Linked DNA regions of Homo sapiens: regions 2, 3 and 4 are each reported to be linked to region 1. The links are microRNA targets in miRTarBase. Many come from high-throughput screens and were not tested one by one. Region 1 holds a microRNA gene; each other region holds the end of a gene's coding sequence.

Region 1 (3,222 bases):
CTGGCTCTGGGTGCTTATCTCTGCAGAAGCTTCTCGCTAGCAAACCCACATTCAGCGCCCTGTAGCTGAACACAGCACAAAAAGCCCTAGAGATCAAAAGCATTAGTATGGGCAGTTGAGCGGGAGGTGAATATTTAACGCTTTTGTTCATCAATAACTCGTTGGCTTTGACCTGTCTGAACAAGTCGAGCAATAAGGTGAAATGCAGGTCACAGCGTCTAACAAATATGAAAATGTGTATATTCACCCCGGTCTCCAGCCGGCTCAGCAGGCTCCCCCAATTTGTCTGGATAGAGCCTAGGCCCAGTGTCCCAGGAAGGTGGATACTTGGGAGTCTTTGGCATTCAGGGAAATTGGGGGGACTCTCCTGGGATAAACAGATTCTGCAGCCTCATAGCCCTTGTTAGAACTGGCGCCCCCAAAATCCCTACGAAACAGGTAAAGTGGTGGAAGCAAAGGATGGGGGGATGAGCAAAGTGCCAGGCTTGGAGGGGGAGTATCCCTGCCCCACCCCACCAGGCCCAGGCCCAGGCTTGAAACTAAATTTTGAATTATGTGGGAGGTAGGAAGGGCAATCAAGACAGTTAAAAAAAAATCTAACACCTTCAGCCTACAGTTAGGCACCCAAAAGCCCCACTCGAGCCAGGGCATCCCTGTGCCCCTGAAATCCATCGAGGCTCTGAGTGAGTCTGCGCTCTCCATGCCCTGAACTGAGGGACAAGCACTGCACAGTGCCGAGGCGCTGGGGCGGGTGAAATTTGTGAACTTTTGTACTCTTGTGTGCTGCTGTCGGCAAAGCAAAAATAATGAAAGTTTGTGATATGTTTGTAAATGATTTCGAATGACCCCTCGCCCTGCCCTTCACCATTAGCGCGCCGGCCTCAGCCCAAGGCGGCTCGGTGCCTGTGAGCAGCGCCTGCCTCGGGGTCTGCAGCAGCAGCGGAACGGAGAGGCCAGCCCGGATCAGGGCCCATGAAGGTAAATGCGCGACTTCTTGGAGAAGTAGCTTTGGCAGACAACCTGGCTTGGTCGGGCAGTAGGAAAAGGAGTAGACACAGGATATTCCCCTCTCGCTTCTTTTTCTTCTGCCGCTGAGGGCATTTGTTCCTTTCTGGAAAATACCACTTGGTAAGGAGGAGGGTTATTTGGATCCTGGTGGGGGAGGGTGGTTAATAAAGCCGCCATCCTTGGGATGGATTATTTTTCTTTCTTTCTTTCTTTTTTTCTTTCTTAAGAAGAATATTCTGGTTGTTCGCCTGCTTGGTAACCCTGACCCTGGCAGAAGAATGAGGGAACTCATTGCTTCAAATTGTCGCCAAGCCCATTAGGCTACCTGAACTGTCTCAGAAAGTGCGGGTGGCTGCGTCGAACGGTGGTGGCTCAGAGGAAGAGATTGGGGCCGGCAGCGACCTAGGTACCTCACTCTGGGTGGGACCCAGAGGTTGTAACGTTGTCTATATATACCCTGTAGAACCGAATTTGTGTGGTATCCGTATAGTCACAGATTCGATTCTAGGGGAATATATGGTCGATGCAAAAACTTCACGTTTCTTCGGAATAGCCAGAGACCAAAGTGCGACATGGAGACTAGAAGCAGCCGGCGCTGGTCAGCCGCCTCGTTCTGTTTTATTACCTTGGACTCCAGGAGGATCAGCTGCGCCTGGTGACATAGAGCAGCTTTTCCTCTCCAGAAGCTCCTCACCTTTAAACAGAGTATCCTCTGGGTGCTGAAAAGAAAGAAAGACAGAAAGAGAGAAAGAGAGAGAGAGAGAGAAAGAGAGAATGCAAGCCTAATTGGTTGCATGGATGCAGGGCCAAAGGGCTAGGTTTTGGGGTACTAGGGAGTGAGGTACAAGGCCAGCTTGCCCAGTCCCAGCTCTGCCCTCCAGGAACATGAGGTGCAAAGGTACCCAAATGGGGGCTTGCTTGTATTTGGGGCCTGTGGGAAGAAAGCAAGCTTCAAAGAAGCCCAGTGGGGAGCTCTAGGGTGCATTTTGACAAGGTGGAGGTGCCCTTGCCACCATCCCAGCCCACCCCCAGCTACATGGGCAAGGGCAGCGAGGGCCCCCTGCTATTTTGGCAGGGCCCAGCTTTGGCTGGGAACCCCCGGGCCTGGGCACTGGTAGAAAGCATGGCGGTTACTCATTGCCTAATTTGATTCAAGCTGGCCAGATTCTGGTAACTTTTGGGTGACCCTGATGAAGACAAAGCCAGGACGGCGGCCTTTGTATGGCAGAATCCCTGCTCCCGCCGGCTGCAGGCAGGGCGGGCAGGCAGGAACCCTCCTCGCCTGGGGCACTCTGCCCAACTCAGAGGCGAGTTCACCCACCCACCTTTCATTGCTCTGTACCCCAATAGGAGGATTCATTCTCCCTTGAGCTGTGCCTACTTGGTGTCGGGGGGCGGGGGTTGCATTCAGCTGGGGGTGAGTGGAAGGGCCACGGAAGGTTGGCAAAATCAGTGGCAGACAAAAGCTGGGATTACCTGAGGGGAATGGGGTGCTGGGGACTGGAACTACATTAATATCTGGCAGGGGCTCTCAAATGTGCCATAGCAAGCTACTTGATTACACGTATGTTATTTAGTTAAATTTGTGAAAATTATGAGATGCTCACCAACCCGGTGATAAACTTGCTCCCTCGCCATTGGCTGGCCTGGTCACATGGCTGCCCAACTTTATTCAGTTGACAGCAAGTAGGAGGGCCCTATGGAAGGAGAAAAAAAGACAACACGAGAAAAATTAGTATTTTCTACCTTCTGAAATTAATGGTCATGAGTTCGTATATGGTGAACTCCAAGTATGTGGACCCCAAGTTCCCTCCGTGCGAGGAGTATTTGCAGGGCGGCTACCTAGGCGAGCAGGGCGCCGACTACTACGGCGGCGGCGCGCAGGGCGCAGACTTCCAGCCCCCGGGGCTCTACCCACGGCCCGACTTCGGTGAGCAGCCTTTCGGAGGCAGCGGCCCCGGGCCTGGCTCGGCGCTGCCTGCGCGGGGTCACGGACAAGAGCCAGGCGGCCCCGGCGGTCACTACGCCGCTCCAGGAGAGCCTTGCCCAGCTCCCCCGGCGCCTCCGCCGGCGCCCCTGCCTGGCGCCCGGGCCTACAGTCAGTCCGACCCCAAGCAGCCGCCCTCCGGGACGGCACTCAAGCAGCCGGCCGTGGTCTACCCCTGGATGAAGAAGGTGCACGTGAATTCGGGTAAGGCTAGGGTCCAGTAACCT
Region 2 (3,000 bases), not on the chromosome of region 1:
AAGTGCTACAAATTTCACATGATTCAACATTGTCTTGTGTTTTATTCCTAAAACCCTTCCCCCATCTCTAAATCTAGTGTAATCTACATCCTAAAGACTGGGCCGTTCTCAGCTTTGGCAGTAGGACTTTATATCTTTGCATAAGTGACATTATGCCCACCATCTCCACCCAACTCCTTTATTATTTATATTTTCTTGCAGAGATGGGGTCTCACCATATTGCCCAGGCTAGTCTCAAACTCCTGGCAGTCCCACCACTTTGGCTTCCCAAAGTGCGGACGTTATAGGTGTGAGCCACCATGCCCAGCACTCTTTTTTATTAGAATTTTTGCACAGTACCTGGCCACAGGTAATTTCTCGTGCTTAGGTGCATCTTGATCCTCACAGTACCCTGGGATCCTTATTTTCCTCCTAAGCAGGATTGGCAGTGGGGGGCACTTTGCCATCCCCTCGAGAAGTGACTCTTACAGAACGGCTCCTCCTGGATGGCCCACCACCTCATTCACCAGAGACTCCTCAATTTCCCCCCACAACTGGAGCTGTACTGTACACTGTTAAGAGAAACCAGGTTGGGCCTGAGGTTCGCTCCTGCCCCAAGGCATCCCCCAGACTTCAGAAAGAGAGGGAGGGCCAAAAGGCAGTGAGTGAGTCAGAGGCTTTGATGCTGGTCTGGGATGCATCAGAAACTGAGAAATTGCCTGGTACCGTGGAACCCCCTGCTTCCTTCCTGAGTCCTGTTTCCTCAAAGACCAGAGATGCAGGGAGAAGACATGTGTCCGGGAAACCAGACACTCAAGAGAGATGGCTGCCCTCAAGCAGAGCTAGGGTGAAGACAAGAGACAGGACGTGCCCTGTCCATGAATCTCCATCAGGAATTGACACCTCAGAGACTTCTCCCAAAGCCCCTAGAGGGGGTTTGGCTAAAGACAGTGGAACACAGGGCAAGGGTCCAGAGGGGGAACAGCAGCCAAAGGCCACAGAAGCTACGGTGTGTGCCAATAACAGCAAGGTCAGCTCCACTGGGGAAAAGGTTGTCCTGTGGACAAGGTAGGTAAGGGTGGATGATGTGTGTTTGGAAAAGAGCATAGACCACATCCATGTGGCTCCCTAGGGTTAATCATGATACCTGGGTTACAGGGAAGCTGACCGTGTGATCCTCACCATGTGCCAGGAGCAAGGGGCACAGCCACAGACCTTCAGCATCATCTCCCAGCAGCTGGGAAATAAGACCCCTGCTGAGGTAGGTGCGGGTTGGGGTGAAGACCTGGCAAAAAGAGGTCAAGGTGGCCAACTAAGAGACAGAAAGGCCAAAGAAGGAGTTTTCATATCCAAGATAAGTGGTTTTTGTAAAGGTTTGATCTAAGGAAAGGCTTGACTCATCAGGGTGGTAGTGGTTCTAGGAGAAGAGAAAGGACACTGCATTTTTAGGTGGAAGCCCGTTTCCATTCTAGCTTTTTTTTTTTTTTTGAGCCAGAGTCTTGCTCTGTCGCCCAGGCTGGAGTGCAGTGGCATGATCGTGGCTCACTGCAACCTCCACGTCCCAGGTTCAAGCAATTCTCCTGCCTCAGCCTCTCGAGTGGCTGGGATTACAGGTGCCCACCACCCAGCCAATTTTTCTATTTTTAGTAGAGATAGGGCTTCACCATGTTGGCCAGGCTGGTCTCGAACTCCTGACCTCAAGTGATCTACCTGCCTCGGCCTCCCAAAGTGCTGGGATTACAGGTGTGAGCCACTGTGCCCGGCCATTCTAGTTTTGTTTTTAGGAGTCGTGTGACTTTGGGCAAAACATTTAGCCTCTTGAGTTTCCTTATCTATAGTGACATAGCTCTCTCAACCTTGCTGTGTGGAATAAACAAAAGATTTTGCAAATCAATATATAGTGCTTCATAAATGTTAACATGTTACTAAGGATCAGTGAATACAGCCCTCCTCCTTTCTTAGGTTTCCCACCATTTTCGAGAACTCATGCAGCTCTTCCACACTGCCTGTGAAGCCAGCTCTGAGGATGAGGATGATGCAACCAGTACCAGCAATGCAGACCAGCTGTCTGACCATGGGGACCTTCTGTCTGAAGAGGAGCTGGATGAATGAGACTCTGGGAATCATCTACACAGGACCAAACCCAACAGGCGCCCTGGCACCGGGGAGGCGGGTAGTTGTACTCTGCTTGTACAGTCCTTGAGCCCAGTTTACAGATCTGGAGAGCAGGAGGCCAGGACAAGGACAAAGGCTGGAGGATGGAGTAGGACCCAGGGGCTCTGCCATCCTAGGCATCATTCAAGGTCTTTTATGAAGACTTTACAGATGTCCTCTGTAAGTAGCATCGAGAGTGGAGTTCAGCTCCTTTCTCTACTTTTTTTTGGTCTGATGGCACATATTTATTGTTCTGTGGTCTAATCACAGTGTTTCTAAATGTAAAAAGTGCATATGTTGGTGTAGCTAGTCCCGCGACATTGAGCTCCTCTGCATGAAGACACTGGGCTCCTGCATCCAGCTGTTTTTATTGCAAACTAGCTCCTTTCTCCCACACTGGGAACTTTAGTCCACGAGGCTGTCACCACCCTGGTAGCACTGGGCCAGGCTTTGTAGCTCCTGCAGCAGCTCTGCTACGTCATCGTGCTCCACTCCAGCATCCATGAAGCTGGCCCAGCGCCGCAAGTCGAGTTTGGTGAGGTCTCTGGCCAAGGCTTCCAGGGTCTGGTGCAGGGACGAAGAGGAACACAGTGCCCCAAACACTGGGATGCTCTCCACTGCTGTGGAGGGAGAGGAAACAGAGACCTGTAGATGGATGATTATTCTGCCCTGGGACTCTGCCAAACTGATAAGGAAGTCCAACCTTAGTAGACTTGATTGTAAACTCAACAAATTTGGTGTATTGTCCCCTTAGTACACCAGTACTCCAGAGGAAGAATGCTTTTCTTGGGAGCCATAGGGTGAATAAAGGAATGTTTAACTGTGGACTTTTTCAGCACTTTTAATCCAGGAATGGAGATAGTAAAA
Region 3 (3,231 bases), not on the chromosome of region 1:
CCACAGGGCACCAGCCCCAGAAGGTGGCCCGGCGCGTGTTCACCAACAGCCGGGAGCGCTGGCGGCAGCAGAACGTTAACGGCGCCTTCGCCGAGCTGAGGAAGCTGCTGCCGACGCACCCGCCCGACCGGAAGCTGAGCAAGAACGAGGTGCTCCGCCTAGCCATGAAGTACATCGGCTTCCTGGTGCGGCTGCTGCGCGACCAAGCCGCAGCTCTGGCCGCAGGCCCCACCCCTCCCGGGCCTCGCAAACGGCCGGTGCACCGGGTCCCAGACGACGGCGCCCGCCGGGGATCCGGACGCAGGGCCGAGGCGGCAGCGCGCTCGCAGCCCGCGCCCCCGGCCGACCCCGACGGCAGCCCCGGTGGAGCGGCCCGGCCCATCAAGATGGAGCAAACCGCTTTGAGCCCAGAGGTGCGGTGACCGCACGCGGCAGCACCTCTGAGCCGGAGGGCACCAGGGACTCGGCCCAGGGCCGTCAAGGAAAGGGCAGTGGACGTGCTGCGCATGTTCGGGAGCGAACTCCCCCGAAGAAGGACCAGTGAAGACGTCAGGGGCAAGGTCTCGGGGGTCCGGAAGGGTGATCATCGACCCCCAAGGGACCCGCAGACCCTTAAAAAAATCACCCACAACCCTCTGGAAGTGGCCTTGCCCGGTCCCCTTCCCAGGGGCGAGGTCGGCAAAGCAACATGGCAGAGCAGTCATAGGACCCAAGTGGTGCCTCATTTTTTCCGGGCTGGGGTCGCGGGGGGAGGCCAGGAGGGGCTGGGGAGGCTTCGCTTTTCTCACCGTCGGCCCCTCCGGGAGACCCAGGGGCAGACGCTCGTCGACGGCGTCTGCTGCGCTCCCGGCGCTTGGACAGAGGCGCAGAATCCAAGTCGGGGACGCACCCTACCGACCCCGACCCAGTCCCGCACGGTCGCGTTAGCGAAGGGTCAGGCGCTCTCGCGTTTGTTTTTCTTTATTTCTTTATTTCACATACACATTAGCCATTCAATGGAGAAGCCGGAGAGAGTCAGGCAAAGATGGTATAACAGAAGCGCAGTGACGGGGGCGGGGCGGGGCGGGGCGGAGAGGGAACAGACGGGCTGGCTGCCTACTTGCATTCCGCTAGGACACTGAAAACCCAGAAAACAAAACAGACAGTAAACTACCCTTGTTTCTTATGTATCTCAGTGCAGAGACGGGGGTGGAGGGCAGAGAAGAGGGGGAGACCAGGCTGAAGGAGGAGGAGCAGAGGGAGGGGGACGCTAAGGGGGAAGCACACCAAATCCATTAGTACTATATATAGAGATACTCGTATATACTGCGTTTCTTAGCCTAAGAAGAAACTTGTTTGACGGGACGGGCGGCCTTTGCGGTCCGCGATGCTGGTGCTGGTCGGGCGCACGGATCTCCCGGGAGGGGCCGAAGCGGGGCTGGCCCAGGCTGGCTTGCGGGGGGAGGGGGGCGCCCCGAGGGTGGGTGGGGTGGGGGGGAGCAGAGGCGGGGCTGGGGTGCCCCTCGGGCTCTCGATTGGGGGACGAAAGTTCTCGTGACTTTATTGCTCCTTTATTTTCTCTCGTGTGGGGGGGTCTGTTCAGCACGGTCAGGGTGGGGGAGTGGTGGGTCGTCTGAGCCACCCGGCCCCTCTGGGACCCAGAGCGCGGCGTCCGCTCCGCCAGCACGGGGGTGAGAACAAGGCACTAGGTCGGCCGGCCAGCGCGGGGGCGGGTGTATAAGGCAGTCGACAGGGCTGGTTGCGGGGTGGGGCGGGGCTGTGTGCGGGGCCGTGTGCGTGCGTGCGTGCGGGCGCGGGCCTGGGCAAATCGACCTGTCAGCGTGGCTGGTCCTGTCCTGGAGCGTCGAGCCTTCCCGGTGTTCCCCGGAGGGGGTCGGGGATAGGATGAGAGATGTTGAATGGGGGCGGGAGGGGCGCCGGGAAAGGGGGGAGGAAACTACCAACTTGCTGAGCGCGCTCCTGATAATGCTGGTGAGGGTCAAGTTGGCGTCTGGCTCAAAGAAGGGCGCTCGGGGCGGAGAGGGAGGGAGGGAGGGGACGTTTGTTCGTTGGCATTGACCTCTGCGGGGGAGGGGCCGGGGACCCCTGCCGCGCCCCCGTACCCGGACGGGGATGGGGCGAGGAGGGGTGCTGGGCCCCAGGGAGGGGCGCCCGGGGAGACCCGCGGCCGGAGCAGTCCAGCCGCCGGGGGCACGCCGCTGTCCCGTTCCGTTAAACTCAACAAAGAAGGGATATGCGTATTCCTAACAAGTGCAGGATATTTAATTGATTCATAAACTTATGTATAATAGTTTGTGGGTTCTTTAAAACGTACTTTATAATGTAAGAAGCACCAGGGTTTTATGTTTAATTATCTTAAAAATAATTTTTCTCTCGTCCTTTTCCTTTTTGATCTTGTGTTGGTTGATTTTTTAAATGTCGAGGTGTTTTTTTTAAACTCTAAAATGTGAACGTTTCCTTCAGCCCTCCCACCGAAACAGAACGAACGACGAAACAAATAAAAACCCCAGATCATCCTCGTCAACGCAGGAAAACGACTTAAAAAAAAAAAAACTAAAAACGAACAAAAAAAAGGGAAAAACACTCAGCTTTCGTTATCCCCGCGCAGGGCGGGGCAGGCCCGGTTCTTTTAGCGTCCCCAGAGCCGCGAGGACATTACAACAAAAATAGAATTTTTTTTTCTTAATCTCTTAACATACAAAGATAGGAAAACTCTCTGATGCATTGCACTTGGTTCAATGAAAAAAAAAAGTTAATTTCCCCCATATATATTTTTGTTTTTTTTTTTTTCTCTCCTAACACGTCCCCACATCTCCTGTTGCCCTCATTGCCCCTCACAACACCACTTGGGAAAGGAGCAGCCCCCACCCCCTGCCCGCCCGGGCAGCCCCGCCGGGCACGCTCCGGCCCGGGCCCAGCTGGCCTGCAGCTTCCGACCTCGCCCGGGCAGGCGCCCCGCAGACCCTAGCTCCCACAGTCCCACAGAGCCCGAGCCCTCGACTGTCGTCGAGGGAAAGGGCACGTGGGCCGGACAGGGAGCCCCTTCTGCTTCGCTCTCAGCTCTGACCCTGTTTAGCCAACCGAACTGAAAAATCATTGCACTTTGACCGCGCGTCACGCCCGGCCCACCCGGCCCCCCACCCCCGGGGCCTTACTCCCCACGCCCCGGGAGACTCCCGCAGGATCCACTGCCCCTCAGCCCTGGGGTCCTCTAGGGCTGCACGCTGAGGA
Region 4 (3,231 bases), not on the chromosome of region 1:
ACAAACCAGTCCCCGCCCTTTATGGTAGGTGCCCTCCTGTCCTGCAGGGTCGGACCGATACCTGGAGAGCCGCGATGCCTCTCGACTGAGTGGCCGGGACCCCTCCTCATGGACAGTCGAGGATGTGATGCAGTTTGTCCGGGAAGCTGATCCTCAGCTTGGACCCCACGCTGACCTGTTTCGCAAACACGTAGGTGCTGCTGCCTGACCTCTCAGTAGGAACCTGTGTGGAGAGCCTCACCTGGTGGGGACAATACGAGATGTTTGGGGAGGAGGGATGCTTAGAGACAAAGGCTGAGGAGAACAGGTAGGCTTCAGCATCACAGCAGGTGAACTGGACTCCATGTGGCGGGCACTTCCCAGGATGGCCTATAATCAGAACCTGGGGTGGTCAGACCAACCAGGACTCTGATGGTGCCTCCCTTCCACTTCTGCCCACCTCCCCACCCCCCAGGAGATCGATGGCAAGGCCCTGCTGCTGCTGCGCAGTGACATGATGATGAAGTACATGGGCCTGAAGCTGGGGCCTGCACTCAAGCTCTCCTACCACATTGACCGGCTGAAGCAGGGCAAGTTCTGAACCAGGAGAGGCAGCCTAGACAACCAAGTGGCAGCAGGTGGGGGCATTCTTCTAGGAATGAGGGGCATCAGCCCACCCCAGGCACCTCAGTGGGGTTCCGGGCCACCTCAGGACTCCAAGAGGCTGTGTGGAGCCACCACTCCTAGCCACAGCTGCCATGATAAGTCCTTCCATGAAGGACTGAGGAGGGAGAGTGGGGGTCCAGGGCTGGTGCTGCTCTTCCCTCAGCTCTGCCGGGGCTCTAAGGTCCCTCTATTTATTTCTCAACCCTGGCTGGCCTCTCACCAGGAGTTTAGGCTGAATGCCTTCCACGTGATGGAGGAAAAGGCCAACTCTGTCCTGGTCTTGCTGTGGCACCCCATCGCCCCACAGCTCGTACCTTCTCACCAGATTCCCCTGAATCCAAACTCGTGGTGCAAACCTCTACCTTTTTTACAAAAAGATCTTATTGTTAATTTATTGTTTCTGGCACTTGGGCAAACCCTGTAGTTAATACTCCTCCCACACTAGACACTGGGTTTCAGGAGGAGGGAGACTGCCCTGCTTTGGTCCCAGAGAGGCCCTCTGCAGATAGGCGTGGCCCCTCTTCAGAGGACACTACCCTAGGGCACTTTCTCTTTGAGGTGGAGAGACCCATAAAGCCTTGACCACATCACTCCATATGGGGAGGAGAAGGATCCCTGTCACCTTCTCCTCTCTTCACGGGGCCCTTTTGCAGCCCTAGGCCTCATCTGTGGGAAGGGAGTCCCTGGCTTATACTGCCCCCACCACAGCTCCTTGCCCTGGCCAGAACTGCTGTCGAAGAAAATCAGGCCGGAAGGCCAAGAAGGCGCTAAGGGGGATGGGAGGGCAGGTTTTCCAGGCTGGAGTCGGTTCCACCCACTCGCCTGTCCACAGGCTTCCTTGTAAGCAAGTCAGCAGCACAGCTACTCACGCTGCCATCTGGACTTATTTTATGTCAATCTGTTTATAAATAAAAACCAATATAGATACCAGTGTCTTTTTAATCAGTTAACAGCCAAATCACTACGCATTCATTGGACCAGTCATTCCCCTTCTCTTGGTCTTAGTTTTCTCATACATAAAACGAGGCCGAGCACGCTGGCTCATGCCTGTAATCCCAGCACTTTGGGACGCCAAGGTGGGAGGATCTCTTGAGCTCAGGAGTTTGAGACCAGCCTGGGCAACATGGTGAAACCCCAGCTCTACAAAAAAAAAATACAAAAATTAGCCTGCTGTGGTGGCGCACACCTGTAGTCCCAGCTGCTTGGGGAGCTGAGGTGAGGGGATGGCTTGAGCCTAGGAGATCGAGGCTGCAGTGAGCCGTGTTCGCACCACTGTACTCCAGCCTAGGTGACAATTTGAGACCCTGTCTCAAATAAATAAAATGGAGAGCTTGGAAAAAATGATTCCTAAGCGTCCTTCTAATTCCAGCAGTCCCTAAAGAACAGGTGGTCTTCCGAATGTCCACCAGAGCCCCAGCATCACACAGGCCCCTTGGAAAGTCAGTATGTGAATCCAGTCTCCACCCTCAAAGGGCTTTGCTCTGGTGCAGCTAGACAGTAGTAAGCACAGCAGCTATGCAAAGCCAGAGCAGGAGGGAGCAATCTTACATCAGCAACTCCTAGGAGCCTCAGTGGCTGGGCATATCCTCACCCATATAGGGTGGGGAAAGATGCAGGCCAGCACAGCCAGGTCAGGCCTGCACTGTACCCCTTGTGCTGACCAGGGGCCAGGCACACAACTCCAGGGCCACACGTCGTGTTTATAATTGGAGTATAGGGTTTGCAGGAGGAAGAGAAGGCATAGGGGAGCAGCAGGTCAGTGCAGTATAACCTGATAATAACCACCACCAACACTTATATCACTGTGTGCCACATGAGCTGCTTACATGAATTAGAACTATCTCACTTACTCTTCACAACAAACCCATTTTATGGATAAGGAAACTTAAGCTCAGGTCACACAGGCAGGAAGTGCCAAAGCAGACATTTGACTGCAAGGCTGAGGTTCTAGCCAGCCCACCTATGTGCCAGGAAGCTTTGGGTGGGTCATTTCCTTTCTTTGGGCCCATCTGGCTATGGGGTATTTGCATGAGGAGACTTGTGAAGGCCCTTCAAGCTTTCACCAGTGACAAGTTCCAATATCATAACTTACTTAGAATATATTTTCTACTTGGCCACTGTGAGGTTCTAACCATGGTCACTGTGAAACAGTCAGGGTCAAGGCTGCCAAACAAGTTGAGGCCCTCATTTTCTACCAACTCCTTGACACTGGGGTTTTTTTTTTTTTTTTGACAGTGTCTCTGTCGCCCAGGCTGGAGTGCAGTGGCACGATCTCGGCTCCCTGCAACCTCCGCCTCCCGAGTTCAAGTGATTCTCATGCCTCAGCCTCCCAAGTAGCTGCGACTACAGGCACACGCCACCATGCCTGGCTAATTTTTTGTAGTTTTAGTAGAGTTTCACCATCTTGGCCAGGCTGGTCTCGAACTCCTGACCTCAAGTGATCCGCCTGCCTTGGCCTCGCAAAGTGCTGGGATTACAGGCCTGAGCCACCGCACCCGGCCAACACTGGGATCTTGTAGACTGTGCTGTTCATTCAGGGTATTCCCAATGAGCACCTTGCTGAACCCTAACAACAAACTTCTAGAT

What was found. The annotated mature microRNA hsa-miR-10b-5p reads UACCCUGUAGAACCGAAUUUGUG and lies in region 1 at 1,462-1,484, shown strand. An mRNA with a match to its seed (bases 2 to 7 or 8) in the 3' UTR can be bound and repressed. Matches are read on the target gene's strand: a 7mer-m8 pairs with bases 2 to 8, a 7mer-A1 pairs with bases 2 to 7 and ends in A, and an 8mer does both.
Region 2: miRTarBase lists MSTO1 as a target of hsa-miR-10b-5p. The part of its 3' UTR that is shown has no 7-base or 8-base seed match.
Region 3: miRTarBase lists LYL1 as a target of hsa-miR-10b-5p. The part of its 3' UTR that is shown has no 7-base or 8-base seed match.
Region 4: miRTarBase lists SCMH1 as a target of hsa-miR-10b-5p. The part of its 3' UTR that is shown has no 7-base or 8-base seed match.

The regions. Positions count from the first base shown.
Region 1 is chr2:176,148,868-176,152,089 of GRCh38, forward strand. MIR10B (microRNA 10b) reads left to right here and starts at 1,436; the gene lies at 1,436-1,545. It overlaps HOXD4 (homeobox D4), which reads left to right and starts at 2,683. Exons shown (of 2, transcript NM_014621.3): 1 at 2,683-3,199. The coding sequence starts at 2,767. RefSeq lists an enhancer at 2,402-3,135.
Region 2 is chr1:155,613,812-155,616,811 of GRCh38, reverse strand. It overlaps MSTO1 (misato mitochondrial distribution and morphology regulator 1), which reads right to left. Exons shown (of 14, transcript NM_018116.4): 14 at 1,861-2,753. The coding sequence ends at 2,539. It also overlaps the pseudogene LOC100419798. Among named protein-coding and RNA genes, the nearest start is that of MSTO1, 5.1 kb to the right of the region's middle.
Region 3 is chr19:13,096,510-13,099,740 of GRCh38, reverse strand. It overlaps LYL1 (LYL1 basic helix-loop-helix family member), which reads left to right. Exons shown (of 4, transcript NM_005583.5): 4 at 7-708. The coding sequence ends at 422. NFIX (nuclear factor I X) reads right to left here. Exons shown (of 11, transcript NM_001365902.3): 11 at 945-3,231. Among named protein-coding and RNA genes, the nearest start is that of LYL1, 4.7 kb to the left of the region's middle. RefSeq lists enhancers at 1-366, 1,574-1,713, 2,959-3,231.
Region 4 is chr1:41,025,543-41,028,773 of GRCh38, reverse strand. It overlaps SCMH1 (Scm polycomb group protein homolog 1), which reads left to right. Exons shown (of 16, transcript NM_001394311.1): 15 at 48-190; 16 at 455-1,572. The coding sequence ends at 580. SLFNL1-AS1 (SLFNL1 antisense RNA 1) reads right to left here. Exons shown (of 4, transcript NR_037868.1): 2 at 62-241. Among named protein-coding and RNA genes, the nearest start is that of SLFNL1, 5.4 kb to the right of the region's middle. RefSeq lists an enhancer at 991-1,909.